Linked DNA regions of Homo sapiens: regions 1 and 2 are each linked to region 3. Evidence: fine-mapped expression QTL. A gene starts in region 3. Each other region holds a variant in brackets. All regions are shown on one strand. Distances are between the middles of the regions.

Region 1 (10,418 bases), 120 kb before region 3:
ATATACATACATGCAGAGAATAGACACTCCCTACTTAGATGATGAAACACCAAAACTAATTAGTATAACAAAAGACCAAATATTTTCTACCTGTCTGCAGAAGCAACATGAAATGTAACCTTCTAATGTCTAATGTGGCAACACTACTATTAAAGTCCAGATGCCAGTTTCCTGGGAATCTTTCTAATCCATCACACCACTCTTCCTCAACTTTGGAGAGTATACTAAGCAATATTACCAGTATGCTGGCTTATGATTTTATTATGGTGAGGGTAGGCAGGTAAGGAATGTACAAGGTTAATATTTATAAATATGAATCTATACAGGTAGAGCAAGCATATGGAACAGGAGAAAGAACATGGACCCCAGGGAACTTGAATTCATTTGGTTCTGTCACTCATCCATCATCTAGTGACTTTGGTCAGGCTACTTTTAGTTTCCTTGAGCCTCAGGTTTCTCATCTGCAAAATTATGATATTAACTATTAAAGCACTTCCTTAGAGGATTAGAAGAGATAATGTGTGAACATTACCATGGTATCTAGCATAGGGAACAAGCTAAGTGTTGATTCTCTTTCTCCTCCTTAGGTAGGGACAACATAGTTAATTGCCCTCTATTTTCTGGATATTTCTTTGTAAGGGTACTTAATTCACCTATTGGAATATAATTTGGAGGTTTACATACGGTATGGTTAGTTTTTATCTAAATGTCAGTGAAAAATTACAGAGACAAAATTGAGGGCTGGGTATAAAGATTTTGTATTTTATTTAGATATTTGAGTCCATTGGAAGGTTTTCATGGAAACTAATAGTTGGTTTCTCTTACATATGAAAAAAATTGATTTCATAATCATGGCTCTACGCTTTATAGTTTGCCTATGGTATAAATATTGAAATGTTACCTGGTAGTATTTACATTATGTGCATAGTTAATTCAAGCACTGCAACAGACCTTTGACATAAAAATACTAAATGTCCTTGGACTCCACCAACTTGCAAGCAAGCTTGAAAGTCTGCGGCATTTAGTAATTTGAACAGATATGAACGATGCAAACTGTGCAGGTGAAGACTCGTGAAGCTGGTGGGTGAGCTTAGTTCACTGCCCAATATCAGTACCTGAAAGCAGTTTGCATGATCTGTTCCACTAGTATATAAGAATTCTTCTGCAGTAATATGTATTACTTTCAGGGTATGTGCAGTAAAATAAAGCTGTTCTCTAAAATGTGATTTCAGAGATATGAAATTTAATGCCTATACAATTACGCCAACATCAGCAGCTAACATTTTTAAACAATTACTTTGGGGACAGAAACTGTACTAAATAATTACATGAAGGATCAGACTTTAGGCTGTACAGATACCTTGAATAAGAGCCTGGGGGCAGTGTGGCACAGTGGCTAAGAATGTGGTCTCTGGAGTCTGGGATACTCGGGCTTATGCATGGATTCTGCCTCTTTCTAGCTATGTGACATTGGGTCAATTATTAAACTTCTTAAAACCTCAGGTTTCTCATCTGTAATTTGAAGTAAAAAATAATGGCTACTTCATAAGGTTGTCAGAAGCATTAAATAAGGTTATAAATAGTTAATTTTAAAACCCTAGCTTTATATCTAAATAGTTATTAAGAGTCTAAGGGGGGGCCTTGAACTTTTCTGCAATGCTTTATTGTGTATTATAGAAAACCTTACAAAATATGGTAGGGTTTAAGAATTGGGGAATTCTTAAATTACGGAGGAGAATAGTACTGGAATATATACTTCTTAAATGACAAAATTTACTGTAAGTTTAACATAAGTGAGCTGAACAAAATAGCTCTTATAGAGTATTATTATTTACAGAATTGCTATGGCTCAATTGATTAGAGAAACTTCAGTAACTCAGTTGTAGTTCAAATATTATTAGCTGTATTGAGGAAGGCAGCAAGGAGAAAAAGGGGTATGAAAATATTGGGTTTGTCTTAAAAAAATGCATGGAGGTCCAATTCCATCAATGTAGTTTTTTGTTGTTGTTTTGTTTTGTTTTTGAGATAGCGTCTCACTCTGTCACCCAGGCTGAAGTGCAGTGGCATGATCATCATCAATATAGTTGTTGATGCAATTTTTCTAGATTTTCTTTTTAGTTCATGGTTTGAAACAAGGCCCTGGAACATACAAAACTCTTACATTTATTTAAACCCAGGACATTTGTGTAGGGGTTTTAGGACCACATCTATCAGACAACTGAAGCCAGAGCCAACTGAGAAACAGTCTGGGATTGTAGGCTATGTTTTATTAAAGTTTCAACTGATTATGTCACTGCAGCTTATCAAAATATGGATTCATCCCAGACTCTTCTCTGTCTCACACATCCCAACATCCAATATCTCAGCTCAACCTTCAAAATACAGGAAAATTGAGCCGCATCTTCCCACTGACCTTGCCTCTCTTCTAGTCATAGTACTAATCACTTGCTGGACTATTGCAATATCATTGGACATATTCTTCTTTCTTTGCTTTTTATTACTCTATATTTTCCATCAAGCAGCACTGTGAACTTTTAAAAATGGAAGTCAGATTATGTCATGCCTTTGTTCAAAACCTTCCAATGAACTCAATATCTGAGTAAACTACAAAATCTTTATACCCAGCTCTCAATTTAATCTCTGTAATTTTTCCTCTCATTCTCGGCTCCAGTCACACTGGTCTCTTTGTTTTCTACCAAACTTGCAAAGCACACTGCTGCCCTGGGGTCTTTGGACTTGTTTTTTTCACAGTCTGGAATGTTCTTCCACTCCCTTCACATCTCCATTTAATAGTCATCTTAGAAGGGAAGACTTTCCCGACCTCACATGCCCTCCTCCTTCATTCTTTATCATCCTACTCTGTTTAATTTTGTGCTACAGCACATAGTTCTGCCTTACATAGTATACACTTACCTCTCCCTTTCTTATCTTTCCCAAGAGAATGCATGTCCCATGAGAGCAGGAACTTCCTCTGATTTGTTCATGGTTATGTTGCCAGCAACTAGACCAGCATCAGCACATGGGCCTCTCAGGAAATATTGCTGAATGCAGCATTGTGCAAGGGGAAGGATTAATTGAGAAGAGCAATTTACTCAAGGGTGAAAGGAAGGCACTCTGGTGCTGAACTGATGGATGATCACATTAGTGATTCTGAGTATTAGGGTTTGACTCTGACTTCCAAGCCCTGAATTTCCAGTAGATACAGCTTCTCATCCTTCATGGGGCACTGCTATCAGGAGTAACTAAGTCAAGAAGATGAAGCAAAGAATTGAGATTCCCTTGTCTAACTCATCATTGCTATGGCTTCAGTGCTGTACTTTACTTTGTCAGATAGAGCCAGCTCCCTCTCTCACATCCACTAGCTGAGGATGAGAACCCAAAGCATGCTTGTCAGGCAGAGGACAGGAAAGGAATGATAGTGGAGTTAGGGACACAACTTTGGGAGCCTCTTGAGAGAGTTAATTCAACTCAGGGAGCCTCGTAGCAAACAGCAGGTGTTTTCTACTTGGTACAAATAGTATTTCTTCACATTAGTTCTTCACAGATTTGAAATTTCTTCTTGGTAATAAATTAGACAATTAAAAAAGTACAATGCCTCTTTACTGCTGATCTCCAAGGTGACCTTTAGGATCCTACAACTGTGCTATAGAAATATATTCCCTCAGGGGCCCAAAAGCTGGCAACATCACTGGCTACATTTATTATTTTATTCTCTTTTAAGCACCATCTCTTTCTTGAATACCTGCTATATGCTAGGTGCTTGGCTAGGAGCTGGGTTGTAGTTAGGATTCAATTAGACCTGATCTCTTTCCTAAAGGAATTGGTAAACTAAGCAGAAGAACTAGCATACAGTTGTAGAGCTGAATGGTTACAATCCTAAAGTAAAAGGGATGTCATGAAGTGAAAGACGTAAGGAACTGATCCCACCTGGGGCCATGATATTCAGGCTGAAAGCTGAACAATGCCTAGAAACTAGAGGAAAGGATAGAGTGGGGAATGCATCAGGAAACAAACAACACAAGCATAGGTCTAGGATGGGAGGGAGTATGACACATTTAACAAGCAAAAGATGGCAAGTGTGGCTGATTCCTTGTTGGGGGTGGTGGAGGAAGGAGGGGACAGGACGGTGAGCCTGAAGACTGAAGAGAAGGTCAAATCCTGAAAGCCACGTAAGCTTCTTTACAATGTTGGTCTTTAACCTGATAAGAAGAGGAAGTCTCTGAATGGCCTCAGGCAGGGAAATTATATGATTTTATTTGCATTATTAGAAATTCACTCTGACTGCTCTGTGCAGAAGGGACTGTAGAGGGCCAGGCAGATAAAAGAGGCCTGTGGGGAGGCCACTGCAGTTGCCTGCACAATAGAATGTGTGGCTTGCACTCAGGTGTGCATGGTAGAGATGGGAGGAGAAGGGAAAGCAGGCAGGTTGACTGAGCAGGCAAGCAATGGAAGGAATAAAACAAGTTCAGAGGCCCAAAATAGCTATGTTGATCTTGCATCTCATTTTCAAGATTAGCTTTTATTTTCATTGTGGCGATGCATATTTTGTACCCAAATTACACCCACTCCACCCCAGCCCTGACCGAACTGCTTTGCTGCTGAGTTGCCATAATTTGTATTCCATTTCTCCAGAAGGCTTAGACGTGAGGTACCACAGGTGTTTCTGGATCAGCTCGGCATACCCTCAGGGTCGGCCCCACCCTGAAGTCCTTAGCTAATCTTTAGAAGGGCATGATTCTGAAGATGAGAGGAAATTACTAATAATTATTTTATCTAGTTCTACAGATGATACTTCCTATAGTGACTTTACATCATAGTTGACCTGTTAAATTCTAATCAACACACCCCAGTGGAAGTTTCCCCAAATTTTATTAAATGTTTTAAATATTGTGGAGAAAACAACAACAACAACAACAAAAGCTTCTCAAAATTTCACTTGTTAAAGCAATTATGAGAACCCATATTATTTTTCCTATGAACATTTTACTAATATTTTATATATACTAAAACTGTCCTTGCTGAGGACTTTTCTAAGGTTCTCAAGTTCTGTAGGTTGTAAAAGGGCCCAATCACTTCATAGACTCTATTTTTATGAATGTCAAACTTGGAAAAAATGGCACACAAATACAAGGGAAAAAAAACCCATAAAATAGATAGCAAACTGAATATACTATCATTAAACTCAAGAAAAATGTTGAAGGACTAAAACCATCATCACTGATTCATAGATTGATTATTTCACATATTTATGAATGATTCTTATGTGATTAATGGAAATGTAGAGATTCATCAGAGGTTTTCAAACAGAGATCAAAGGCGCCCTGGGAAGGATTGGAAGGTTGTGCTTAATGGGGAGAAGAGGCATTAAGTGAGGGAATTGTAGGAAGTAGACCTCCAAGCTTGTTATTTCAGTTCAGTCAGAACTGTTTTTATTGATTTATTCATTTATTTTTTTGAGGTATGTAAGTCGCAAAATTTCCACTGGATAAAAAGATGTCTGACTAAAAATACTAACAACAAAAACAACAACAACAAAACACCATAAACTTATCTAAATGAGCCCTCTCAGGAATTTGCGCTTCTTGACATGACGGAGTAGCCTACAAGAGACCCACTTGCCTGCTGAGAACCACTAGAAATACACAATAAAAGCAATTTGCTTGAAAGCAAAGGAGAGCTGCCAAAGATGTCAAAACTTAAACTACATCAAAAAGAGAGGCTCATTGAGGGGAGCCTAACCTTCCGCCTGTCACTCCAGTCACCCTCGCCGGGATTTGCTAATTCTTAGTGTTGAAGGAGAATCTGAGAAGTCAGAAAGAAGGTCGCTGCTGAGAGGAAGAGAATTCCTTGGAGTTTTCAGCAATCTCATAGGGCTGAGGAGGCAGAAAATGGAGCTGAGCACAGCCCCGCTGAGGCAGCCAACTTGGACTTAAGATCCCATAGAGAAGAGAGGTTCAAAGAAGCGAGCTTGGAGCTTCATCCCCAGTTTTTCCCCAAGGCGTTTGACAGTCAGTTAAGTTGCAAATAGCAACAGGCAAGAAGCAAATTGAGACCATCCAAAAAGCAAGGCAAAGCAAACTCAGTCTCGTGGTGTTAAAAAACAAAAATTGGGGTTTGTGATTTCACAAATAAGGTGACACATCTGATCCTCAGTTGGCCACCCTGGAAGATTATTCTTCAGGACTGTGGTGAAAGAAGGGTAAGCTAAACTTTAGAAGTGCTACAACCTAGGTTCAAGTCACTTTGATCTTTGATTGTAATGAAATGGTCTGCCTCTCTGCTGCCCAACAGAAAATAGGGTGAATCCTCTCTGGAAGGAGAACACATTATCCAGACCCTCTATATCTGTCCACACACATGTTTGCCATTCAATCCAATATCACCCAGCATATCAAAAAACACAATCACAAGAAAAATTAATAAAAACAGACAAGCAATAAAGTCTGTCTCCATTTTCAAAGCCTCATAGAGTCCCATAATAGTTCACTTAAACATGTCTAAATTCAATAATAT[G/A]AAACATGGCACATTCCAGTCATCAGTCAGACAATAAGGGTGAACTGTAATGAACAGTGCTAGTCTATTTTGAATGTTTGCTGGGCCGGGCACGGTGGCTCACGCCTGTAATCCCAGCACTTTGGGAGGCCAAGGAGGGCAGATCACAAAGTCAGGAGTTTGAGACCAGCCTGGCCAACATAGTGAAACCCCGTCTCTACTAAAAATACAAAAATTAGCTGGGCCTGCTGGCGGGTGCCTGTAATCCAAGCTACTTGGGAGGCTGAGGCAGGAGAATTGCTGGAACCCGGGAGGTGGAGGTTGCAGTGAGCAGAGATTGCGCCACTGCACTCCAGCCCAGGCGACAGTGCGAGACTCCATCTCAAAAAAAAAAAGAACGTTTGCTGACAGTTTTTAAGTCAGTCCTACCCTTCCCCCATTTCCCTTTTGTCCCCAAAATGGGCAAACTGATAAGAGGGGCCACCTTTTTATTGCTATTGGGAAATACAAACCACTCAAATCCTGGCTGTCACATAGAAATCCTGATCCCAGCCACATGCCCTAACATGATAAAAACTAAACCCACTTATTCTTCTCTTTGTTTGAACCATTATGAACTGGCATGGTTGCCTGCTCTGCTGTCCCTGAAGTCCCATTACATGAGCAATAAACCTGTCTGGACCCTCTTGGTGGGTGTGTTGCATCATCAATATTAACATCCCAGTGGATTTTGGATGTGTTGGGGGCTGCCATCTGTGGAGCCGCCCCAAAACAAAAACAAAATTGATCCAAACATTGGAGTTCTTTGACTTAGGCTTTTGAAATAACTGTGATTAATATTTTTTTAAAGGAGATGACCTGATAATAAATTTTACTAGAGAATTGGAGTCCCTTTAAAAAAGAATCAACTAGAAATTTAAAAAAAAATTGAACTCAATATATAAGTTTTGAGTATATTGGACCCACATGGATAAGTGAACTTAAAATTAGAGCAGTAGAAAATAACCAGACTTAAGCATAGATTAGAGGGAAATTTATATCCTTAAATGAGTACAGCACTAAAATAAGAAAGGCAAGAAATTAATGACATGATTATCCATTCCAATAAGTTAGAAAAGAAGAAGTAAGTTTTACTGGAAGAAAGCAGGAAAAAACCAAAAAGAACTATAAAGAGAGCAGAGATAAATAAAATAGAATACAAACAAATCTATAAAGCTGAAAGCTTATTTTTAAAATTGATAAACTATCTGCAAAACTAATCAAGGAAAAAAGAGAGCATACTAATTAGCTAAATGAGGAGTGGGGAAAAAAGAAACCGTACTGCAGATCCTTATACATCTAACAAAAAATACAAATGTATTATGGACAATTTTATGCCAGTAAATTAGAAAATTAAATGACAAATTCCTAGAAGGCAAATTAACAAAACTGACCTTAAAAGAAATTTAAAAAAATTAAATAGTCATATGATTTTAAACCTTTCCACACTCACATTGTTTTATCAGTGAATTCTACCAAACATTTAAAAAATAAATGAGGCTCATCTTATACATTCACTTCCAAAAAATAGAAGGAAGAAAAAATTTTCAATTCATTTTTTAAGGGAAAGCATAACTTTGATATCAATTCCTCTGAAAGAGAATAAAGGAGACGAGAAAATCATCTCAACATCTGCAGAGAAAGCATTTGATACAATTCTATAGTTATTCATAGTTTTTTAAAAGTATTTTGGCAAATGGGTACTAGAACTAGCTTGACCTAATTAAAGTATCTGAAAGAAACATAGAGCAAGCAATATAATTAATGGGAAAGAACTGAAATTTCCCCACTGAGATCCAGAAATCACAAAAATATTTATCACCACAATATTGTACTGTAGGTCCTAGCTAGTACTATAATGCAAGGAAAAAAAAAAAAACAAACTATAAGTATTGGGAAAGAAGAAATACACTTATATGGTTTGGCTGTGTTCCTATTCAATCTCACCTTGAGTCGTAATAATCTTCATGTGTCAAGGGTGGTGCCAGGTGGAGATAACTGAATCGTGGAGGTGGTTTTCCCCATACTGTTCTCCTGGTAGTGAATAAGTCTCATGAGATCTGATGGTTTTATAAAGGGGACTTCCCCTGTACAAGTTCTCTTGCCTGCTGCCATGTAAGATGTGTCTTTCCTCTTCCTTTGCCTTCCGCCACGATTGTGAGGCCTCCCCACATATGTGTAACTGTGAGTCAATTAAACTTCTTTCATTTATAAATTACCCAGTCTTGCATATGATATGTCTTTATTAGCAGCATGAGAACAGACTAATACAACAGTCATAATTTGCAGGCACATGACTATGTACATAGAAAATCCAAAAGGAAATTATCAAAATTTTAGAATTAGTAACTGAATTTATCAAGTTCAATGGATATAAAATCAATATACAAACCGACTTTTTCATATTACAGACACAGAAACTAAGAAAGGTGCCCATATCCACACACTTTTCAAAACTAGAAAAAGGCTAACACTCAGCTCGGTGGTTCAAGTTTGGGTTTTTTTTTTTTTTTTTTGTATATATGCAAACTTGTAGATTTCAGTTACTCCCTAGTCACACAGAGGCCAGACCACACACTAGCCCCTGTATCTCCTAGGCATCAAGACATTAAAATGCTGCTGGCCACAGTGACCATCCATGGGAAATGAAGGGAATACCTGATGGAGGCAAAGTGCAGTTTTCTGAAATGTGGAGCTGCAAGTAATCTAAGCTTTCAGCTTGTCACAAGTTGAGGATCAAGAATCACATGTAGTGAACAGATTTACCTACAATGGAACCTAAAGACAGAATAAGGGGAGAGGGTGGATGTGTCCAGCGCCTGTCACAGGAGAAAGGAGAATGAGTGGAAAAAGCTGGGTCTTTGGCCCCAGTCTCATATTTACACAAGATGTTAAGTTTGAAATTCAAATATGTCCTGCAAATGAAGTAAAGGCACTAATAGGACTGAAAGTAGATGTTTATCACACAACTTGAAATCCATGTCCCATTCTTCATCCAGAGTGTCTACAACACACCATCAATGAATATTTTCAGTAAACTCTGCAGTTATCTTGTAAATGTTGTAATTATACAGATGGGATGGTATATTTATATGCTAACATTATTTTATTACATGTGAATATTTAAAGCTTTGTAGCACCCATCAGCATTATTTTTTTTTCCTCCTCCTCTTTCTTCCCTTCCTTCTGTACCCATATCCTCCTCCTTCTCCGCCTTCCCCTTCTCAAAATACGAAAGTGATCAGAGCTTCCAAGGTCAACCTTGGAAAGACTCTGGATCCCTAAATAGCTAAGTGAACTCTCCGAGCATGTAGGTGGAATGTGAAGGGTGATAGAAGGCTTGCCTGATATGAGAGAACAGAGCCAGAAAAACTGCTTTGATATTGTATTACCCTAGTTTTAGCTCTAGGCTGGTATTTTCTCAAGACATTGGGGTTACAGCAGGAAGTTCAAAGCTTCCATTATTGTGGCCAAGGCTTTTGCACATAGAACCTGCTGACTGCTGTCATGGATGATGGCTCAGCCTGTATCCTAGAGAAGCAGAGGCTTGATGTAGGACTTCCTGTTGGCTGGGTGACTTCAGCCCGAGGCACCTGCAGTGCTGGATTAACCAAGGCGCAAACTAAGCAGGTGCTTAGCATGCAACTAAATCGAACACCACCCCCATCACCCACTCCAGGAAAAGCAGAGAGGATTTCACATTTAAAGAACTTTCTGAGGATTTTGATTTTTCCATCCAAATGAAAAAAAAAAGAACTTATTTTCCTTTCAGCTTGCATTTAAGTTTTCTGTCATTTTAAGTGATTTTATTTTATTATGAATTAAAGTGGGAATGCATCACAGTGGTGGTGGTGGTGGTGGTAGGATTAAGTGCTCAGAGCCTGTAA
Region 2 (10,418 bases), 330 kb before region 3:
AAGCTGCATGGCAACAGTTTTTAAATACCAAGTTTAGGAACATTTATTTAACATAGTTGCATTCTCTTTTGTGACTTATTGTAATGATGGCGTTTTCAACAAGATAGGTAAGTGAATACGTATAAGTTTTCATAATAATCAAAATTCAGTGAGCACTTACTAGACGCCTGACATTGAGTCCTTTTAATTGTGTGATTTAATTTTCAAAAATTCTCGAAGTAGGAATGATTATTACTCCCCATTTAATAAGTGAGGAAGTTGAAGCTTAGGGAGGTAACGTAAGTTGTTGTCCCTGCAGTCATTGGCAAAGTAGGGATTAGGACCACTACTATCTCTCTCCAAGGCCCACTCATCTGAACCCCACCATGGAGCAATGTTCCCCCGAAGCATCACTTGATCTCTCAGGTCTTGTTTTTTAGTTATTGCCTATCCAAAATGAACTCTTTTCTACTAATGAACAGGCTGGAAGCCTGTCCCCTAAACCTGGCAACATCCTTTTAACATCATGGCTATGTCTGATAAGTGCTTCATCTCTCACAATCTGTGATTCTTAGTCTCATCCTCATAGCCCAAATCCTTGCTGACTATAGCCTCTGGCCTCAGGTATGTTGCTGCCCAGAGCTCAGCCCTTCCTTGTTCTTCCTGGCCTTGAGTCACCCTTATGGAAATAAATAGACACTGGAAACTGATCTCTGCTAATTTGTCTTGGATTTGCTCCATTATTCTGAAGCACATTTATACTAGGCAGGGCTCAGCTACTCTTATTAGTCATCTAATCCTTTACCTGGTCCAGTCTTGCTAGTTTTAAAATGGCCTCAAAAATCAACCACCTCTCAGCCCTTCCTCAAGCTGACCTGAATTACAGTGACAGGCCTTTTCAGCAGAAAGACATATCCATCTTTTCCTGGTTAAGGGCCTTTTATATTCCTATAGGATATCCCATTAAGTTCCTGTATCTAACCTAAGAGAAACTGCTTATTTTCAGCTAGTTTAAAAACAAGGGCATACATTTAACAAATTAGACCATGTGCTGTTTTCTGAACTAGTTCCCTGAGTTTCGTTTATTTCATTCTATCTCACAACCAGCCCTGAGACAAGGCTTGACCAATTGAGACTTAGAAGCATATAGCTTGCCCATTATCACACTGCTAACATGTGGTGAAGCCAAGATGTAAACCCAGGCCATCTAACCACTGAGCCCATGATCTTACCATTCCTCCATGCTATTTCCCAGAGCCATCCAGAGCAGATGAATCCTCAGCCCTCAAAATCTACCAAGATCTGCTACACTCATTCTCCCTATTCCATCCCATAGGTATCTGCTGTCCCTAACCACAGGAAATTAGACTTCTGCTAATTATTATGATTCTCTTAAAACATCAAAATACTATGTTTAAAAGAAAACAGATGTTTCCTCCCATCTTGTGCTATTACAGTCCATGAAAAGCAAATAGGGGCAGGAGAGCTGTTTTATAGGCCTTTCTATAGGACATTGTCTTTTTTTCCCCTGCCTCTATTCCTACTCTTCTTAATACCACTCAACTTCTAAAAGATTTCTGTTCCCTATACTCTCCTCATTTTGTGTTTTGAATGGGCAGAAAGACTGGAGCAAAGACTTATCTGAATTGTGATTCTTCCATTTATCAATATTTGTGCAGCCTAATTCCTTATATCACCAAAGCTGAAGAACATCGTAATAAGTATTTGAAATGACTCTTGCTACAGCTTATGTTATCAACTGAATATTTCTGAAAGCCTATGTCCTTAGCTGCATGCTACTTCATTCAAACAGGACTTATGCTGCAACAGGTGTTCAGTTTCAACAGAAACAGAATTCGACTGCAGAAGTCAACCACATTCTTTCAAAGGAAAGTGCAACTACACCTCTTGAAATGTTGAATTATCACTGACTTTTTATCCTCCAGTCTATCCCTACATTTTTCCATCTACACATCATCCAAGTATTTCTTCAGACACCTACTGAATACTTTCTGCCAACTACTGTGCTTAAGTGTTGGGTATAGAAACACAAATAGACATAAGCACTGAAACACAAGAGCTCACAATACAATGAGAAAAATAGACACAAACTAAAGGTTTTAACACTGTATGACAGTGTTTTAGTAGGATGCGAGATGCTAAATGAACAAAAGGAATAGCAATTTACCTTGAGTCAAGTAGGGATAGGAGAAGGGAAACAGCTTCATTGTGGGCATGATATCTAAACACTCTTTAATAAGAGGTTGTTGGTGACTGAATGGTTAACAGTGACGAGGAAGGACAATTCTCAAATACCTAACTAGTCCAACTTAGTATACATCAATGCTCTCAACCTAGATTGCGGAAATATAAAGGATGTTGAAGTGCTACAATGCTGAGTATAACTTTGGACATACCGAGTTTGAGGTGTGTATGTTACATCTAGGTGATTTATCAGAGGTCCAGTTGTATTTATGGGAGTAAATATTAAAAAAATCATGTTTTGCTTATATTGATCTTCCCAATTGTTTCATGTAGGGTGATGTTCTGCATACTGTAGGTGTATAACATGTTTGATTTTGTCCTTTCATATTCCTTACTGTTTTTACAAAGATTAAATCCATACACAAAAGTTCAATAAATTTACCAAAAAATTTCTCAGAATAAGACCTTTAAAATCAATATTAATATCCTTTTAATAATCTAAGATATTTTTAATAATCTAAGATATAACGTCATCAACAAGTATTTTACTTGAATAGAAAATAACCTTCCTTGGTTAAGTAGGGAATAGTTAAGTAATTAGCAATCTTTTACCCTTCAGAATGGTGAACTTCCTGAGGTAAGATAGAAATAAAATAAATGCTATTTTGTAACAGCTTGCTTTAAAAACAAATAATAGTATTGTCAAAAGTGAAAAATAATATAAAACAAGTAGGGGACACATTGCAGATGACATGACATAGTAAATGTCTTAGAATGTTAACTTGTGGAGGCCGGGCATACGATTAAAGAAGAGAATTAGGATTTGACTGTGTGTTCTGAATTCATATATTTACAATATGCATGGAGAGAGAGATCAATTTTCACATTGTATGTCTTTTTTCAAAAAAGCTGATCATCTACTAACAAAAATTAATGACACATAAATGGCAGTTCATGAAAATCCAAATCACAAAGCAATCTGTCATTGGATTAAAAATAATGCAAATGTCATGGGACCGCTGGCTAAGCTAAATAGAATAAAATAAGCCAAATCCATCTGGAAGGTGATTTTGAAATAAAAGAACTGAGGTGTTTACTTTGATTACTTCAAATGGCTTAGAAATGCCTGGAAGAAGGAACCAGTTCCATTTGGGCCTTGCTATTTTATTTTCATTTTTGTAAGTCAGAGCCAATAACACTAATGAGTTTGATAATGCTAAAATATTTCCCTAAATATGTGTAAAGTCCACTTTAGCCTTTTGCAATATTTTAAAATGGGAATAGCATAGCTTTAACATATAAGAACAAGAACGATTTTAAGGGGGTTGTTCTAAACATGTTCAGACCTAGAGTAGGTTTTCAGGGTAGGAAATTTTGATGGGAGAATTGGCAATAAATTGAAAGCAAACACCTCAAGGAAACTGGAATCTTTCCACTGGAGCTGGTCATTTATTTATATTTAAACTGTTATCTCCCTCAAAGGAGTCACATATTGCTTGCAAGGAAAAAAAAATTTTGCTACAAGTCAGCTTTGCTGTTAATGAATTAGAGGTTAGAAACCCAGAGCATTGGAGCCTATTATCCTCCAAGAAGAACATTTCATGTTTTAAAAATCCATGAGGCTTTGAAGACCTATTTGATGTCCTTAGAAACTGTGACATGTTTGAAATATCTTGAAATACCTGCGTACATTTTCCAGAGTCTATATCAATAACACTTTTTAAAAACCTCTAGAAAGTCCAGGGTAATAAATAACTCAAGCAAACAAAGACATGGTGAAAAGGTTCAGCCTAATCACATCTTTTCCCACTTAAGTTATCTCAGAATGTTTATATGTTCACAGAAAGACATTTCCTTGATAGCAAGCTCTCATTTCTGTGTTGGAGTCTACTCACTCTTTCTCATCAAACAAATTCTCATCCATAGTGTCCATGGCAGGCATTATTAATCACTCAGGCACCTTGCTCCTTCAGAATCTGCTAAGTAGTGTGGGAAAGGAAACTTATTTACCTCCCAAGAGCAGACATTTTAACAGGGTTGTCCAAAAAAACTTGATTCTGTTTATGGCACAGATATATCATCCATTGTATCACGACTTCTGTATTTGAATTGTTTGATTTCTATTGTTTGTTAGCTATCAAATATTGTCTGATACTGACTTTTTTGTTTTTTTGTTTTTTTTTGAGATGTTATCTCGCTGTCACCCAGGCTGGAGTGCAGTGGCACAATCTCGGCTCACTGCAACCTCCGCCTACCGGGTTCAAGCGATTCTCCTACCTCAGCCTCCTGAGTAGCTGGGATTACAGATGTGTGCCACCACGCCTGGCTAATTTGTGTATTTTTAGTAGAGATGGGGGTTTCACCATGTTGGTCAGGCTGGTCTTGAACTCCTGACCTCATGATCTGCCCACCTCGACCTCCCAAAGTGCTGGAATTACAGGCGTGAGCCACCGCGCCCGGCCGACAAATATTTTTATCTAAAGGATGTTGCATTTATGCTTTTATTTCCACAGCTGATTTTACAGACATATTGTGCACTTTTTTGTACTAATACCATATTATGAGTTGCTAATTAATGAAATCATTAAGGAGAAGATTTAAGTATTAACAGAAATGCAAAACATTTTGGGGATGATTTTAAATCAGGTGATAAAAATTGGTTGCATATTTTAACAAGGAAGGATGGTGTTAGAGGTAAAAGTGACCATCACAGATATGTTGTATTTATTGTTAAAAACACAGACACACACACACACACACACACACACATCAAGGCTGGGCATGGTGGTTCATGCCTATAATCCCAGCATTTTAGGAGGCCGAGGTGGGCGGATCACTTGAGGTCAGGAGATCGAGACCAGTCTGGCCAACATGGTGAAACCCCATCTCTACCAAAAATACAAAAATTAGCCTGGCGTGGTGGCAGGTGCCTGTAATCCCAACTACTGGGGAGGCTGAGGCAGGAGAATCACTTGAACCCAGGAGGCGGAGGTTGTAGTGAGCTGAGATGGAGCCACTGCACTCCACCCTGGGTGACAGAAACAGACTGTGTCTCAAAACAAACAAAACCACATTAAAAGAGTTAATATTACAACACATACTGATCCCTGATAAGTGAAATTCTGTGCGATAACTCCTAAAGAGTTTCAAATTCCATTTGATAACAGGATCTTGTAAAGCAAATATTTTACAGCTCTAAGTAGTGGATCAATTACACAGAAAAGAGGACAA[G/AG]AGGTCTGTTATCTTTTCTTCAGGGCTTCCTTAAGTAATGCCAGAGAACCAGCCAGTGCTGAAGGCCAGTTGTGAGGAAATCTGTATGGAATGGCTCAAGATTAAATTGGCAAAGACCTTGGCAGGAAGGCACTGCAGGCTGTCAGGCTAAGAAAAAATTCTCCACAGCCTTGCTGAGGAATTTACCACTTGGCTCTTTGGTAACTTTCTCAACTGGACATATTTTGTGTCTTCATTTTTAATTCATTTACATAGGTAGTAGTGCTTCATAGTCGGCCAGTCCACTGATTAACTGTCTTCATTTGCATTTTTTCAATTATGGGTAAGTAAACCTTGGGGACGCCCATGAAATCTTAATTATAGTCAACAAATTTCCTAAATATGGCTTAGAGCCATTTTTTTTCTCACCAATAAAGGTGAAACAGTTTTTGCTCAACCCGAAACAAGGCATTCTTTCTAACATGGAAATCTCAAAGATAAGTGGGAGTACTGACAGGTTGGCCCTTGGAAAGTTCGGAACAGGGCCACCTGTTTATCCAGGTAGTCCCCACCTTCTTTTCCTATACTTACTCTTTCCTTGCCTTCCTTTCAGCACCCTCGCTTATCCCAACCCTTCAGGATCTCCTGCCAGAGACCTCCTCTAAGTTATTGGTTTCCATGTAACAAAAAAATCATGAGGAATTATGCAACAAAGAGAAGAGCCAATGGGCTTTCAGGCACCCCCCCCATAATTGGGAAATATTCTTGGGCAGACAGTCCTTATGTCACATGAATACATAAGGCATTAACTGTTGATCTTGTCTCTGATTCTGTGCATCAGCATGTCTTGACCACCCAAGGTTTATGTCTCATAAATAATTATGCAAGGAGCTAAGCCTCCTTTTTGCCTTACCGATAGGAGAGCCAGCTAGCAGAGCATCACTACCTTTGATCCCTCTATTTCTACCCTTCTCCCTCCCTAGGTGATATCATCATGACCAGAAGACAAATGTAAGAGGAACAATTATCTAGGAACCCATGAGAAATATGTTTTCATAAAATGGATCAAAGTCACTAAATGACCCCACCCTTTCTGAACTGCCTAACCTTGTATGAACATGGTATCTGCTGCTAAGTACTGAAGGCCATTTAATAACTTGCAAAATGGCTCCTACCCTCCAGCATGCAATGCATAATCACTGAGAGAAAAGTAGACTAGAAGAGTCAAAGGCTGCGGTTTGGGTGCAGGTTGGTGGAGTACTATGCCTGGAAAATTAGCAAAATCTGAAGATCTGGAACGATCCTTCCTCATTCTTTCACTTCTCTTCTCATCTAAGCCCTAGGAGCTATGTTCTAATGTGGCATTATTCATATGTTGGGGGAAGTAAACACCCATGCAGCCTGTGATCCTCTCCTCATCAGGTGTATGGAAATAACTAGTCAAAGGCTCTGTTGCTACCGAGGTCCAGGATGAGGAGAGAGCAGAGAGATTCCGTTCCCAGTGAATGTTTGCTGCCTCTCCTTGGGACCCCAGCCCCTTTTGTTCCTGTGATCACCTCTTCCCCACCTCTTTCTTCCTCTCCTGTGCACTCTCTGTCACTGGTAATTCATTCTTACATGCATGTTTTCATCTCTCCTACTGAGGGAAACCTGGACTCTAGACTTAAAGCCTGAGTTCAAACCTTGACTGGATGGATCACTAACTACACGATCTTGAACAACCACTAAACTTACCTCTACCTCATAAAAGTTCTTTAAAATTAAAAATGAAAATAGCACTTTCTAGTATTATAAAGCATTAAATGAGATAATGCCACTGAAGTTGAGTGCCTGGCACATGGTAAGCCCTTAATACATCTCAGCTTTTATTATTATTATGACCCATCTTTCCTTAAATCACCAGGTGAGTCCAAACATGGTCTTAAAAAATTTATGTTTCTCTTTTCCTACATCTTCATCCTTCTTTTCCTTTCAAAGTTTCCCCCATTCAGCATTTTAGATTTTTTTAAACTCTCTTCTTACTGAAGCTACCACCATCTTGGCTTGGTCTCAGTGCCTGAATATTACAGTTTTAGGGATAAGGAATGGAGAAGTTCATGAGGGGAATAGGAAAATACCAACACTTATGTATCTTTTCTAGCACTACTGAATCCTTTAGATGGAATAAAGGGGTAGTCAAGACTGAGTGCAAGAAAACATAGGAATTTTATGTAAAAATGTGACACCTAAAATATCTAAGAACATTTAGGACTTGGTAAGGAATATTGATAATAGAGAGTCAAGGTGGCTCTACTAGAAGGTGTAGGAAAGGCAATCTAGCCTGGGAAGCTGATGTTTAAACATGTAATTTGGGAAGCATCAAAATAAATAGTCTATATAAAATATTTTATACGACCACTTCAAGGACCTTAAATTCCCCAAATTCCAGCTATTCATTTTGGTTAAGAATATCATTTATAAATATCTCATATTAAAAACCAAATGGTGTTACCTGGTAAAGGATGACACCACCTTACCTCATTCGATTCTCAGGTATACACTGTTAGACCCCAGCTGAGATCCCTCACTACCCCTAAAAGGGAGCCCCCTTCTTGTTTGGAAGTGCCTACCAAACACTGAAGGCCAAATCTCCCAAAGCTCTGTGTTTATCTCCTTCAAAACACAAACACTTGGGTTCCCTAGCACTGTTTCCTAAATCTTTAACTGTATTTTGCTACAAAGTGGGTTATAAATGCATAATTTTTAATCTTTTATTCGGTCTTAAACCACTGAAGCCAGCACCTGCCATCTCTAACTAAGACTGACCTTATCTCAGCATCTAAGTCTACCAATAAATTCCCAGTTTCGAATCTACATATTCTTTAGGATTACTTGAAAATCTCATCCAACTAGCTTTCCAGAACATAAGTACAACAATCTTGCTGCCTTTGGTCCTGCTCTGCACACATTTACTAACCAAATAAAGTAGCAAATGGCAGGTTATATGAAAAGACCTTCCAAAGAACAAATCCAAGGTTATTGAAAAGGACAGTGCCTGGGCTAATGGGTGTAAAAGCCAGGAAAAGGCAAGAAGATATATATCAAAAAAAAAAAAAAAAAAAGCAATGGGCATCCTTAAGACAACCCATACTTGTCAATACTCTAAGCCCTTTCTAGAACCAATAAAACAAGGATGATTAGTGTGTGACACATTTACTGCCATTTCTTCATTGGTATCCTTAACAGATATGCCCAATCAATCAGGTCCTTTTTTCCTACTGATCCTAGCCATGGTCTCAGCATTCTTCTCAACACATAGCTCAGTCAAACACTAGCAATTGATGAGAGTTAGCAATCATCATAAAACCATTTACCATATCCAGTGTGGGCCTTCTAACTAACAGAACTGCACAGGAGAGGGCTATGATTTGACTCATGTCACCTGTGCAATCATTGCTCCAATTAAGAGTATATTAATATCACTTCTACCTCTAATATAATTTCTCCTCACATAATTCATAACGAATGAGCTCTTAACTATAGCACAGAAAATTGAAGTAAAATGTTAGACACATATGTAGCTATATAAAATAATTCACTACATTAACCTAAAATTTCAACTCTTTTTTCATTACAGAAATTAGAATTAAGAGGAAATGCTATCATCATTTAAGGGCTCATAAGAGGTCTTTAGTATAATAGTTTAAAAATCAGTAATTTTAACTAAATTAGTTTTAAATTTGAGCAGTCGATCCATGGGTTTTTAATAATTGAACTTTTTCTGTCTTCTTTAAAATATTTTTTGAGTTGACACAGAATAATGCCCTCCAAATCATTTTCTTTTTTCCTGGTCACTGCTTTTTCCATTGTGAGCTGTAAATCCACCACTAACATTAACACACATTCAAATAATTTTCAAATGATTACTGTGTACACGATCACAGATGCAGGTAGGGGTTTCCTATTACTTTTAACAATGAGTTGTAACCATTCTATTATCTATCTTCCATCTAAATTATACTTCAGGTTCTTGCAAGAGTTATCTTCACAAAGACCACCTCTTGACATGAAGAGAATGATCTAAGCATCCGTAAGCCTTTTCTTGTAGACTGTTCCCAACCTTCCAGAGACAGTGAGAGCTCTATGATTAACTCCACCCTTGCCCCTAACCTGACCCTCGTGCATGCCTCTTCATCTCAGTTATTGGCAACACAGTTCTTCCCAATGCTTTGGTTAAACACCCAGAATCTTATGCTATACCTGTTTTCTCCAACTCAACATCTAATCTGCCATCATGTCCTGTCAGCAATATTTTCAAAACATATCTATTACTTGATCTCTTTTCATCTTCTTCACTCTTATCCACTTGGCCAACTTCTCAGAACCTCTTACTGGCTTGTTACAAAAGCTTCCCCTAACTAGTTTCCTTGCTTCCCACCCTTTACCCCGTTTATTCTCAAATGGAAGCGAGAACGATCCTGTTACATGAACTCAATATCACTTATCTTATCAACAACCTTGAGTGGCTTCCCAATCACAGACTGAGTTAAATCCAAATCTATCAAAATGGTCTTCACATGGGGCCCAATACTTCTGATTTTGCTCTCATTAACTCAATTCCTAAATACTGGTTTCTTGTTTACTGCTCAGAAAGACCAGTCATGTTTGCAATGTAAGGCCTTAGCGCTTACTATTTCTTCTGCCTAGAAAACTCTTCCCCACCTGAGATACCTGTAAGGCTTGCTCCCTCACATCCATCTGAACTTTATCCAAATATCAGCATCTTGGTGAAAACTACCCAAGCCATACTTTTCAAATTGCAGCTCCATTTCCATCCTCATGCCTTAATTTGCCATTCTTTCTCTATTTTAATATTCTTATATACTCATATTTTTATGTTTCTTGTTCACCACCTCCCATTATATCCCAAACATCTAAAACAGTGCCTAGCATATGAGTCCTCCATAAATATTTGCCGAGATGTTGAAGCATTGTAATTTTATGGGTGGGGAAATAGGACGTGAAAGGCTTGTCCAAAGACACAA
Region 3 (10,418 bases):
TAGTAGCAGATTGGCAGTGATAAGAAAACTGAGGAGTAATGTAAGCAAACTCTGTTAACATCAAAGCTTTTCCCAGAAAGACAACCCTAATGCACCTCCAACTTACCTCCCCTCACTTGTCCCTGCTGTCTTGACTCTTCCAAAATTGTATGTGTGAAGGGGCAACATGTTGGGCTGCCCCATGGGATCAATTACCATGCAACTCTGCCTGCCTTGGAAGACTGCAATCAAAGTCTTATGCCAGATGTCAGAATACCATTATCTCCTAGGATAATATGGGAATAAACCAGCTGAAAGATACCTAAAGCTAGCACCTATGAAGGCTCTACACTGCCTGCTGTACCAATTACAAAATCAAACTTTAAGAGCCCTGCTAAGTGCTCAGGCCTGTGGTACACATAGACTTTCCATTCTAAGTGTTTAAAATCTAATAGGAGAGAAAACACATTATTCAGAAAGTTTTATTTTTTTGGACCCAATTCCACTAGCAAGGGTGGGCAATCACTTAACATTTCTGTCCCTTTAGCTTCTCAATTACAAAACTAGGGAATCAATGATATCTGGGTTTTTATTTCAGGTTAAAATTTGTGAATGTTCCAATAATGCATCTCAAAATTTAATTACCTGGGGCTAATGGTTAAATGCAGATTTGATTCCATGGGTCTGGGGAGAGGCCTGAGAATCTACATTTCTAATAAGCTCCAAGGTTTGTGGTCTCAGGCCTACACTTTTGAGTGGCCAAACTCTATTAGAGTTTGTTCATTTAATCTTTGTGACTTCTGTGTTTCTCTATTTACATTTTTTTTTTTTTGAGATGTGGTAGCTGGGTGTGGTGGCGGGCGCCTGTAATCCCAGCTACTTGGGAGGCTGAGGCAGGATAATCACTTGAACCCGGGAGAAGGAGGTTGCAGTGACCCGAGATCATGCCACTGCACTCCAGCCTGGGTGACCGTGCGAGACTCCGTCTCAAAAACAAAAAAAAATGTAAATAGAGAAACACAGAAGTGACAAAAATTAAATGAACAAACTCTATAGAGTTTACATGATTTCATTTAATTACCCCAAGTATCCTCTGAGATAGCCATCCTTAGCCCTATTTCACTGACCAAGAAGTGACTTGTATAGGGTTATACCGATTAAAAAGTGGCAAAGCAGAAATCCCAACAAGGTCTTTTTATTCTTTATCTCCAAGATGTTTAATGTCCCTTTCAGTTTTAAAATACTATCATTAGAAATTATTGCCACACTCATATAAAGTGAACAGGACCACAAGATTGATAAAAGTAAGCTGCTAATGGAGTTCAGAAGAAGAAAAAGGGATTGCTTTATAGAGGGCAGGGGCCTCGGAGTCAGTTAAGAAATCATAGAGGAGATTTGCCATCAACCTTGAAGGATAGTTAAAATGAAGGTAAGCAAAGATGGAGAGAATATAAAAACATAGGTAAGCATAACATGGCATAATCAGAGCACCAGTATGTTCTCTACACCAGTATAGAGAAAACCTGTGGAGAGGGAGGACAGGCCTCATGAACTGGCATTTCTTTCTTTTCTTTCTCTCTCTCTCTCTCTTTTTTTTCTTTTTTCCTTTTTCTGAGACAGAGTCTCACTCTGTTGTCCAGGCTGGAATGCAGTGGCGTGATCTCGGCTCACTGCAACCTCCACCTCCCAGGTTCAAGTGATTCTCCTGCCTCAGCCTCCTGAGTAGCTGGGATTACAGGCACCCACCACCACGCCTGGCTAATTTTTGTAGTTTTAGTAGAGAGGGGGTTTCACAGGTTTCACCATGTTGGCCAGGCTGGCCTCAAACTCCTGACCTCAGATGATCTGCCCACCTCAGCCTCCCAAAGTGCTGGGATTACAGGCATGAGTCACCATGCCCAGGAGAACTTGCATTTCTATTTATTATTATTAATTCATTTATTATTTCTTTTATTATTTATTCTCATCATTTACATCATTCATAGAGCATGGCAGTTAGTTTCTTATTGCTATCCATGTTACCACGTTGCTTTAAGAGTTGGACAAAGTTTGATAAGTAGAATGACCTCAATTTCTAATTTGTTTCTCCTAAGTGGATCTCCTGAGAGCAGCCTTGGGGCCCCCACCCTCAGCCTCTCCATGCACCTTTTGAGCATTCTGTAAAATGCCAGCTGTATGGTATGTGCCCACAGAAACAACAAAGTTAATTCTCTCTTTTTGAAATTGTGACTCCCACTCTCCGCCAATTCTTCTAAAGGTTTCCTTTTAAAGAAAAGCCATGGTTCGCTGCCACTGAAAATTAAAGACAACAGCATAAAGATCAAGGTCCAGGCTGGTGCTAGCGATGACAGAACATTAAAATAATCACTCAAATTTCCTTCCTTGAACATTGACAAAGATTGCTAATGGAAAGCCAATCCCCAGAATGCAGATTCATTTCAGACTTTCTGCACTTGCACCTCTGTGTTCACAAATTATTTTGACTAAAATGAACAAATTGGAAGTGTTGAGATAAAACAGAAGTAATGACATACCAAAAAAAAAATTGTATGTTACTCCCCCACTCCACTTCACAACATAGAGTACCACGAAAAACAGGAGGGCTCATTAGGCAAAGGCTAATTTACAAGGTTGAAGAGAGAAGGAATTAATCGACTCTTCCCTCCGTCAAGCTATACTTCTGGCCTCTCTAACTACAACGAATTTGCTCCATGAGCTTCTCTCTTCTACCTCCCCTTAGTTCCAGATTATGTTTGGCCATCAGATTCATAACTCATATAACCCAGACTTCCTTCCCATTTGCTGAATCCATATTTTCAAGATTCTTATCATTTCTTACCCCAAACTGGAGGTCTGGCCTCAGTGCCCAATCACATGTTGGCATGATGGCTTGGGATGGTATTCTTGATGCCCAACTATTAGTACTAGACTTGCAGCTATAGCGGTTCAGCTAGATGAGCTCAGGTTCCTTCCCCTGACAAACATGGAAAATGTCAAGGGTATTTTCAAAGCATATAAAGCATCTCTTATCCAATATACAACATTTGAAGAAGAAGTTTGCCAACAGAAATCTATGGTCACCCGGGAAGAAGAGATTGATCCAGTACATGCAATAGCTACATTGTAACCTGGTGAATCAGATATTTTCAAAAGACAGGTACAGACATATGAGAGAATAAGCAGGAGGAAAGAAAAAAAACTTCAGGTGAGCTTTTTTTTTCTTTTTTTCCTTTTTTAGTTCATTGGACACTTACAGGCATGAAATTAAAACTCATGAAAAACAGCCATATCGACTTGCTGTGGTGACTCAAAAGTTGTCGTTTCTCGATTCAACTTTGCTGAAACACTCGATTCATGTTGTTCTTATTTAACCTAATTTGCATTGATTTAATCAGTGCTGGTATGCTTTAAATACATAATAAATTGGGATTCTGCAACTTAGATGACTTAGAATAGCTAAATTTCAATAAAGCTCATTTCAATCTGTTAATGTATACGGTTCTGCCAAGGGGTTTAAAACTGTAGAAAAGATGCAAACTTGCCACATTAGAGGTGGGAAAGGCTTAAAGATACCATATAGATGAAATGATTTGCAGGATAATAATGCAAAAAGCAATATATAGAAAATATATATTTATATATAATATATATATATAATTTATTTATTTTAATTACAGCCTAGGAGCATCTTGTAAGTTTTGAGTAGCACACTTAGAAGAAAACTCACATATAAATCAGTGAATTTAATTTTATTCCCTTTCTTTCTTGCCAACACTCAACTCTTCTGCCTCTCTGCACCAGCTCTACAAATCAAGTGACATCCAAAGTGGGACCTCTTCTTGCCCATTTGGCAGCCTCTGTCACCACTTTGCCAAGCAGCCAGCATTAGGAGGATTTTTTTTTTTCCTAGCAACCCTAGGGATTGGGTGGTGTGTACTCACAGTACTCGCTGAATGGCTGGCCGCTGTTTAACCCTGCGGGTGCCTCCTCAACACCCCTCCCCCACCTCCCAACCCTTTAGAGTTTATGGCTCCATCAGCTGGCCTGCTGTCACGAATAATTGTCTTGGCAAGAGGTGAAACCACTTGATGGTGAATTTGTTTGTCTGTCTGTTAAAGTGTTCCGCAGCACCTTGGAGGTGCCAGGATGAAACATGCAAATGCCTGATCCAGAGTTAGGTAGGCAGCAAGAGTGACAGAGAGGCAATCATCAAGAATGGCAAATTAAGAAAGAAAGAAAGAGAGAGAGAGAAAGAAAGAAAGAAAGAAAGAAAGAAAGAAAGAAAGAAAGAAAGAAAGAAAAGAAAAGAAAAGAAAAGAAAAGAAAGAAAGAAAGAAAAAACCATCTGTGCCAGTTGCAAGCTGTATGACCTTGGATAAACCATGATGTCTCTTGGCCTCAGTTTAGTCACGTGCAAAATTAAGGGGGTTGATTTTCTAATGTCTCTTCTAACTCCTAAGACAGCATGTGATGTCTAGGACATTTCAGATTTGTGTTCCTTCCAATTAAATGATACATCTCAGAGATGAATGACCAGGGCAGAGCTCAGATGAATACAAAATGGAATGATTCATGCCCCTGTTCATATGACTTTTCCTGAAAAGTACCACCAGTCTTTGGTGACTTTGATTCCATTGGTTGGCCTCTTCAGCTTAGATGCTAAGGACCAATCCAGTTACTTGTCCAGTCTATCTACCCTGGCTCTGGTAATCCACCCTCATTCCTATCAAAGTAAGTGCCACTACATATAATGCCTACTGATTTTGACTTCCTTAGAGGCAGAAACGATGGGAATTCAAACAGTGGAGCTGGAGACTCACATTTGACTCTCCCTACCATCTCCCTGGGCATCTTTGTCAAGAAGGAAGGCTTGCCCACACTCACTTCCCGCAGGCTTTCTCAGCCATCTTGGAGGACTTTGTTTAAACAGATGACCAACTGACCCTCCCCAGGGCAGACCCTCTACAGACCAGTAGGCACAAGGTGTGTGTGTGGGGAGGTGGGGGGAGAGCTCATTGTAAGGACTCCTATCTATAAATGATTATGAATAGAAATAATGAGGCAAAGGCTTCTCGTCATACTCAGAGGAAAAAGTGGCACAACTTAGTGCAGTCTCAAAGATTAATTAGGATGTGTGTATGGAGACGGGTAGGCTTCATTATGGCTTAAACTATCACGTCCCTACACATTCACACTCTCTTGGAGTGGGGTGCACTGCAGGGCCCAGTAATCACCATGAACAGCACAAGTCAGGGTAAGCCCTCCCCATGTCAGACAGTACAATCGTTCTTTAATCCACTCTGTACCCCATATGTATCTGTGGAGCCTGATGAAGCCCCGGAGGGATCTCAGTCAAGTCTCCCTGCACACAGACATACCTTTTTGCCACACTGGATCTCACACCACCGGGACTTGGATGGCTTCCCAAACTAGGTGGGTTTGGAAAGCATTTCCCCTCTCCACCTCAAAAAAGGGCTGGCTGACTGCAGAATTCCAGTACCCGCAAGAGGGGGAAAAAACCCCAAAAATCTTAGCCAAGCCCCAAATCATTGCCTTCCTGTGTCTTCTCTCAAGTTGCTTTTCTAAAGCAAAGGTCCAAACGTTGATTTCTCTACAGATTCCTACGTATCTCTTACACGTAGACAGTTTTAAAGGGGAAAAGAATATATCCCCAAAAGGCAAGGGGGAGAGCACAGAACATTTCAGTTTCCCACTTGGAAATATCTTGTCGTGGATGATGCTACCCCTACCTCCACCTCCCTCCCCCCTCCTTTTTTTTTTTTTTTTTTTTTTTGAAATATGGACAAAAAAGCTGAAAGTGTTTTCCGTTTCATCAAAAAACATATATTACTTTAGTGGTTCGGTAAAATGTTGGTTTTATGCCCACCCCTTTTCAATCTGCCCATGTCTGAGGTGCTCGGGGAAGACGCACAATCGTGAGCAGCTTACGACACTCAGTGAGCAGTAGGTGCCTGTGCAAGCTCGCGCCGCACACTGCCTGGTGGAGGGAAGGAGCCCGGGCGCCGCTCGCCGCTCCCCGCGCCGCCGTCCGCACCTCCCCACCGCCCGCCGCCCGCCGCCCGCCGCCCGCAAAGCATGAGTGAGCCCGCTCTCTGCAGCTGCCCGGGGCGCGAATGGCAGGCTGTTTCCGCGGAGTAAAAGGTGGCGCCGGTCAGTGGTCGTTTCCAATGACGGACATTAACCAGACTGTCAGATCCTGGGGAGTCGCGAGCCCCGAGTTTGGAGTTTTTTCCCCCCACAACGTCACAGTCCGAACTGCAGAGGGAAAGGAAGGCGGCAGGAAGGCGAAGCTCGGGCTCCGGCACGTAGTTGGGAAACTTGCGGGTCCTAGAAGTCGCCTCCCCGCCTTGCCGGCCGCCCTTGCAGCCCCGAGCCGAGCAGCAAAGTGAGACATTGTGCGCCTGCCAGATCCGCCGGCCGCGGACCGGGGCTGCCTCGGAAACACAGAGGGGTCTTCTCTCGCCCTGCATATAATTAGCCTGCACACAAAGGGAGCAGCTGAATGGAGGTTGTCACTCTCTGGAAAAGGGTGGGTAAGACACTTTTTAATTAAATTCTTTCCCGAAGATTTTTTTTTTCCTCCCTTTTCTTTGCTGCAGCATCTAACATGGACCAAATCACCATCTCTTTGATCTTTCCGTGGCTGTGAACTTTCTATGCTGCCCAGCTTTCTGCATGCTTAGAGGTGAACGTGTGGTTTTTGGGGAGGGGGGTCCTTCTTTATTTCTATGTATTTATTTGATTTTTTGCCCTTTTCTCCCCCTCCCCCGCTTCCCCTCCCTCGGAATAAAATATGATGTAGATTTCTGACCGAGCGCTTCCAATGGACATTCTCCAGTCTCTCTGGAAAGATTCTCGCTAATGGATTTCCTGCTGCTCGGTCTCTGTCTATACTGGCTGCTGAGGAGGCCCTCGGGGGTGGTCTTGTGTCTGCTGGGGGCCTGCTTTCAGATGCTGCCCGCCGCCCCCAGCGGGTGCCCGCAGCTGTGCCGGTGCGAGGGGCGGCTGCTGTACTGCGAGGCGCTCAACCTCACCGAGGCGCCCCACAACCTGTCCGGCCTGCTGGGCTTGTCCCTGCGCTACAACAGCCTCTCGGAGCTGCGCGCCGGCCAGTTCACGGGGTTAATGCAGCTCACGTGGCTCTATCTGGATCACAATCACATCTGCTCCGTGCAGGGGGACGCCTTTCAGAAACTGCGCCGAGTTAAGGAACTCACGCTGAGTTCCAACCAGATCACCCAACTGCCCAACACCACCTTCCGGCCCATGCCCAACCTGCGCAGCGTGGACCTCTCGTACAACAAGCTGCAGGCGCTCGCGCCCGACCTCTTCCACGGGCTGCGGAAGCTCACCACGCTGCATATGCGGGCCAACGCCATCCAGTTTGTGCCCGTGCGCATCTTCCAGGACTGCCGCAGCCTCAAGTTTCTCGACATCGGATACAATCAGCTCAAGAGTCTGGCGCGCAACTCTTTCGCCGGCTTGTTTAAGCTCACCGAGCTGCACCTCGAGCACAACGACTTGGTCAAGGTGAACTTCGCCCACTTCCCGCGCCTCATCTCCCTGCACTCGCTCTGCCTGCGGAGGAACAAGGTGGCCATTGTGGTCAGCTCGCTGGACTGGGTTTGGAACCTGGAGAAAATGGACTTGTCGGGCAACGAGATCGAGTACATGGAGCCCCATGTGTTCGAGACCGTGCCGCACCTGCAGTCCCTGCAGCTGGACTCCAACCGCCTCACCTACATCGAGCCCCGGATCCTCAACTCTTGGAAGTCCCTGACAAGCATCACCCTGGCCGGGAACCTGTGGGATTGCGGGCGCAACGTGTGTGCCCTAGCCTCGTGGCTCAACAACTTCCAGGGGCGCTACGATGGCAACTTGCAGTGCGCCAGCCCGGAGTACGCACAGGGCGAGGACGTCCTGGACGCCGTGTACGCCTTCCACCTGTGCGAGGATGGGGCCGAGCCCACCAGCGGCCACCTGCTCTCGGCCGTCACCAACCGCAGTGATCTGGGGCCCCCTGCCAGCTCGGCCACCACGCTCGCGGACGGCGGGGAGGGGCAGCACGACGGCACATTCGAGCCTGCCACCGTGGCTCTTCCAGGCGGCGAGCACGCCGAGAACGCCGTGCAGATCCACAAGGTGGTCACGGGCACCATGGCCCTCATCTTCTCCTTCCTCATCGTGGTCCTGGTGCTCTACGTGTCCTGGAAGTGTTTCCCAGCCAGCCTCAGGCAGCTCAGACAGTGCTTTGTCACGCAGCGCAGGAAGCAAAAGCAGAAACAGACCATGCATCAGATGGCTGCCATGTCTGCCCAGGAATACTACGTTGATTACAAACCGAACCACATTGAGGGAGCCCTGGTGATCATCAACGAGTATGGCTCGTGTACCTGCCACCAGCAGCCCGCGAGGGAATGCGAGGTGTGATTGTCCCAGTGGCTCTCAACCCATGCGCTACCAAATACGCCTGGGCAGCCGGGACGGGCCGGCGGGCACCAGGCTGGGGTCTCCTTGTCTGTGCTCTGATATGCTCCTTGACTGAAACTTTAAGGGGATCTCTCCCAGAGACTTGACATTTTAGCTTTATTGTGTCTTAAAAACAAAAGCGAATTAAAACACAACAAAAAACCCCACCCCACAACCTTCAGGACAGTCTATCTTAAATTTCATATGAGAACTCCTTCCTCCCTTTGAAGATCTGTCCATATTCAGGAATCTGAGAGTGTAAAAAAGGTACCAATCATTGATTTTTTTTTTTTTTGTAAACTAAAATGTTTAAAATAAAATAGCATTTACAGTTTTTACAGACTGGTGTAACCTAAATGAATTGTTACCTGTGTTACAAGAAAAGCAACAGTTAAAATTTCCTTGGTGGGTGGGGAGGGAGTTGTCCAGGGGCCAGAAGGAAAATCCAGGAGCAACGTAGTCAGATTCAATTTGAAATTTTAAAGAAGGGCAAAGAAAGCTTATCAGATTAATGATTTATGTTAATTTACTCCACATGTGTAAGGACTAGAAAAAGAAAAACTGCAAGACCCTTTATATTACTGGGGCAGGGACAGTGCAATCTAACCACCTTCAGGCAACTGAGAGGTGGACTGAGGACTGGGCACCCTTACTCAGCCTTTAAAGCAGAGAGCATTGCAAATGGTTTTTAAAAAGCAATGCCAGACAGTTTCTCCTAGGAACACGAAACATTTTTGCACTTAATGTAACCATCTTTCAAATCACCTCAAAATCTCATCCCCAAATGCCACCTGTTCTTAATTCTCCTGAGTCTTTGATTCACCAGACTTAGTAGCATTTGTGCCCTTCTTGTACCCCCTGTTAAAGGGAGCCCCTCAGCTCACTGCTCTCTTTGGTCTGGCTGAGGGGAAGGAGGCAGAATCCCGATGTTTAGGGCTGAAAGCTGTGCTTCTGGAGCACATTGCTAAGACTGCAGCAAGCTTAGGCTCCCAAACAGTGACAGCACATTCCTAGTTTCTATGGGGAATGAGGAGAAAAACCTACCTTAGGATGAATGCCTGCAGGGTAATGACTTGTAGCAAGAGACTTTAGGGGCAGAGGTGACAGAGCAGTGATGGGGTGGGGAGAGTGGGAGAAGATACTCATTTGATCCTGTGTTTGCATATTTCTGAGATGGGAATAATTTGTTAACCCAGGACAGAAAAGCTGCCTCTTCTCAGATGGCCCTTTTGTGTAATGCTTGCTTTCCCTTTTTTTTTTTTCTGTGTTGAGAGTGATGATTGCTCCTTCTCACCCCTCATAGGTTTCCAGGTCCATCATTGAGATTTCAGTTTCTATTGAACTAAAGAGTGAGGAGGTGGTGGTAGTGGCAGTTGGTGGGTGCAGAGAAGGGAAGGGGAAGGCTGTGTGCATTGGACGGAGGGCTCCTTCATCAGATGACAATTTAAGCAAATGTATGATTGAAATAAACTGTCATGGATGACAGATGCTGAACCAATGTAGCCCATGTCCCTAAGTCTTTCTCTTCCCTCTCTAACGGACACTAAAGAGTTGCATCTTTCTGTTTTTATTTTTCCTTTTTTTTGAGAGAGAGAAGTCCAAATAGCAGGAAGAGGGAATGGGGGGATGGGGAACCACACACTACCATCCCCCAACATGCAAATGTCTCCAGCTACCAATCTTAGGAGGCAAAATCAGCTTTTTGAAATGCAGAATGGTATCACCAGAAGGTTTCCTTAAGCTAAGGGTTGGTGGTAGGTTTCTCTTTTACCTATGGAGAAACCAGTATGCCTAAAAATAGTATTTCTAAGAGTCTCTTTCAAGAGAAATATTTTGCAAATGTCTTTTAAGATGTTAAGCCCTGGGAGACAGCTTCTTACACACACACACACACACACACACACACACACACACACACACACACACACACCCCAACACCCCAGCTCATT

Which allele goes with the higher level. Positions count from the first base shown, and alleles are read on the strand shown. Sizes are in standard deviations (SD) of each study's normalised expression. Not every link is listed here.
As copies of G replace A in region 1, the expression in esophagus muscle of the gene that starts at base 5,929 in region 3 goes down (small effect, 0.20 SD a copy in GTEx).

What was found. PIP is the estimated chance that this variant, and not a neighbour inherited with it, causes the effect. A credible set is the group of variants that fine-mapping cannot tell apart.
Region 1: its variant is the best candidate, but not a certain one, in a credible set for the expression of LRRTM1 in esophagus muscle (GTEx, PIP 0.75).
Region 2: its variant is the best candidate, but not a certain one, in a credible set for the expression of LRRTM1 in lung (TOPMed, PIP 0.71).

The regions. Positions count from the first base shown.
Region 1 is chr2:80,420,432-80,430,849 of GRCh38, reverse strand. The region is part of intron 9 of CTNNA2 (catenin alpha 2); the gene reads right to left. Among named protein-coding and RNA genes, the nearest start is that of LRRTM1, 120 kb to the right of the region's middle. The variant G/A (reference allele first, on the strand shown) is at 6,514.
Region 2 is chr2:80,634,049-80,644,466 of GRCh38, reverse strand. The region is part of intron 18 of CTNNA2 (catenin alpha 2); the gene reads right to left. Among named protein-coding and RNA genes, the nearest start is that of LRRTM1, 330 kb to the right of the region's middle. The variant G/AG (reference allele first, on the strand shown) is at 5,416.
Region 3 is chr2:80,300,263-80,310,680 of GRCh38, reverse strand. LRRTM1 (leucine rich repeat transmembrane neuronal 1) reads left to right here and starts at 5,929. Exons shown (of 2, transcript NM_178839.5): 1 at 5,929-6,529; 2 at 6,803-8,803. The coding sequence starts at 6,862. The coding sequence ends at 8,430. The region is part of intron 7 of CTNNA2 (catenin alpha 2); the gene reads right to left. RefSeq lists an enhancer at 6,487-7,112.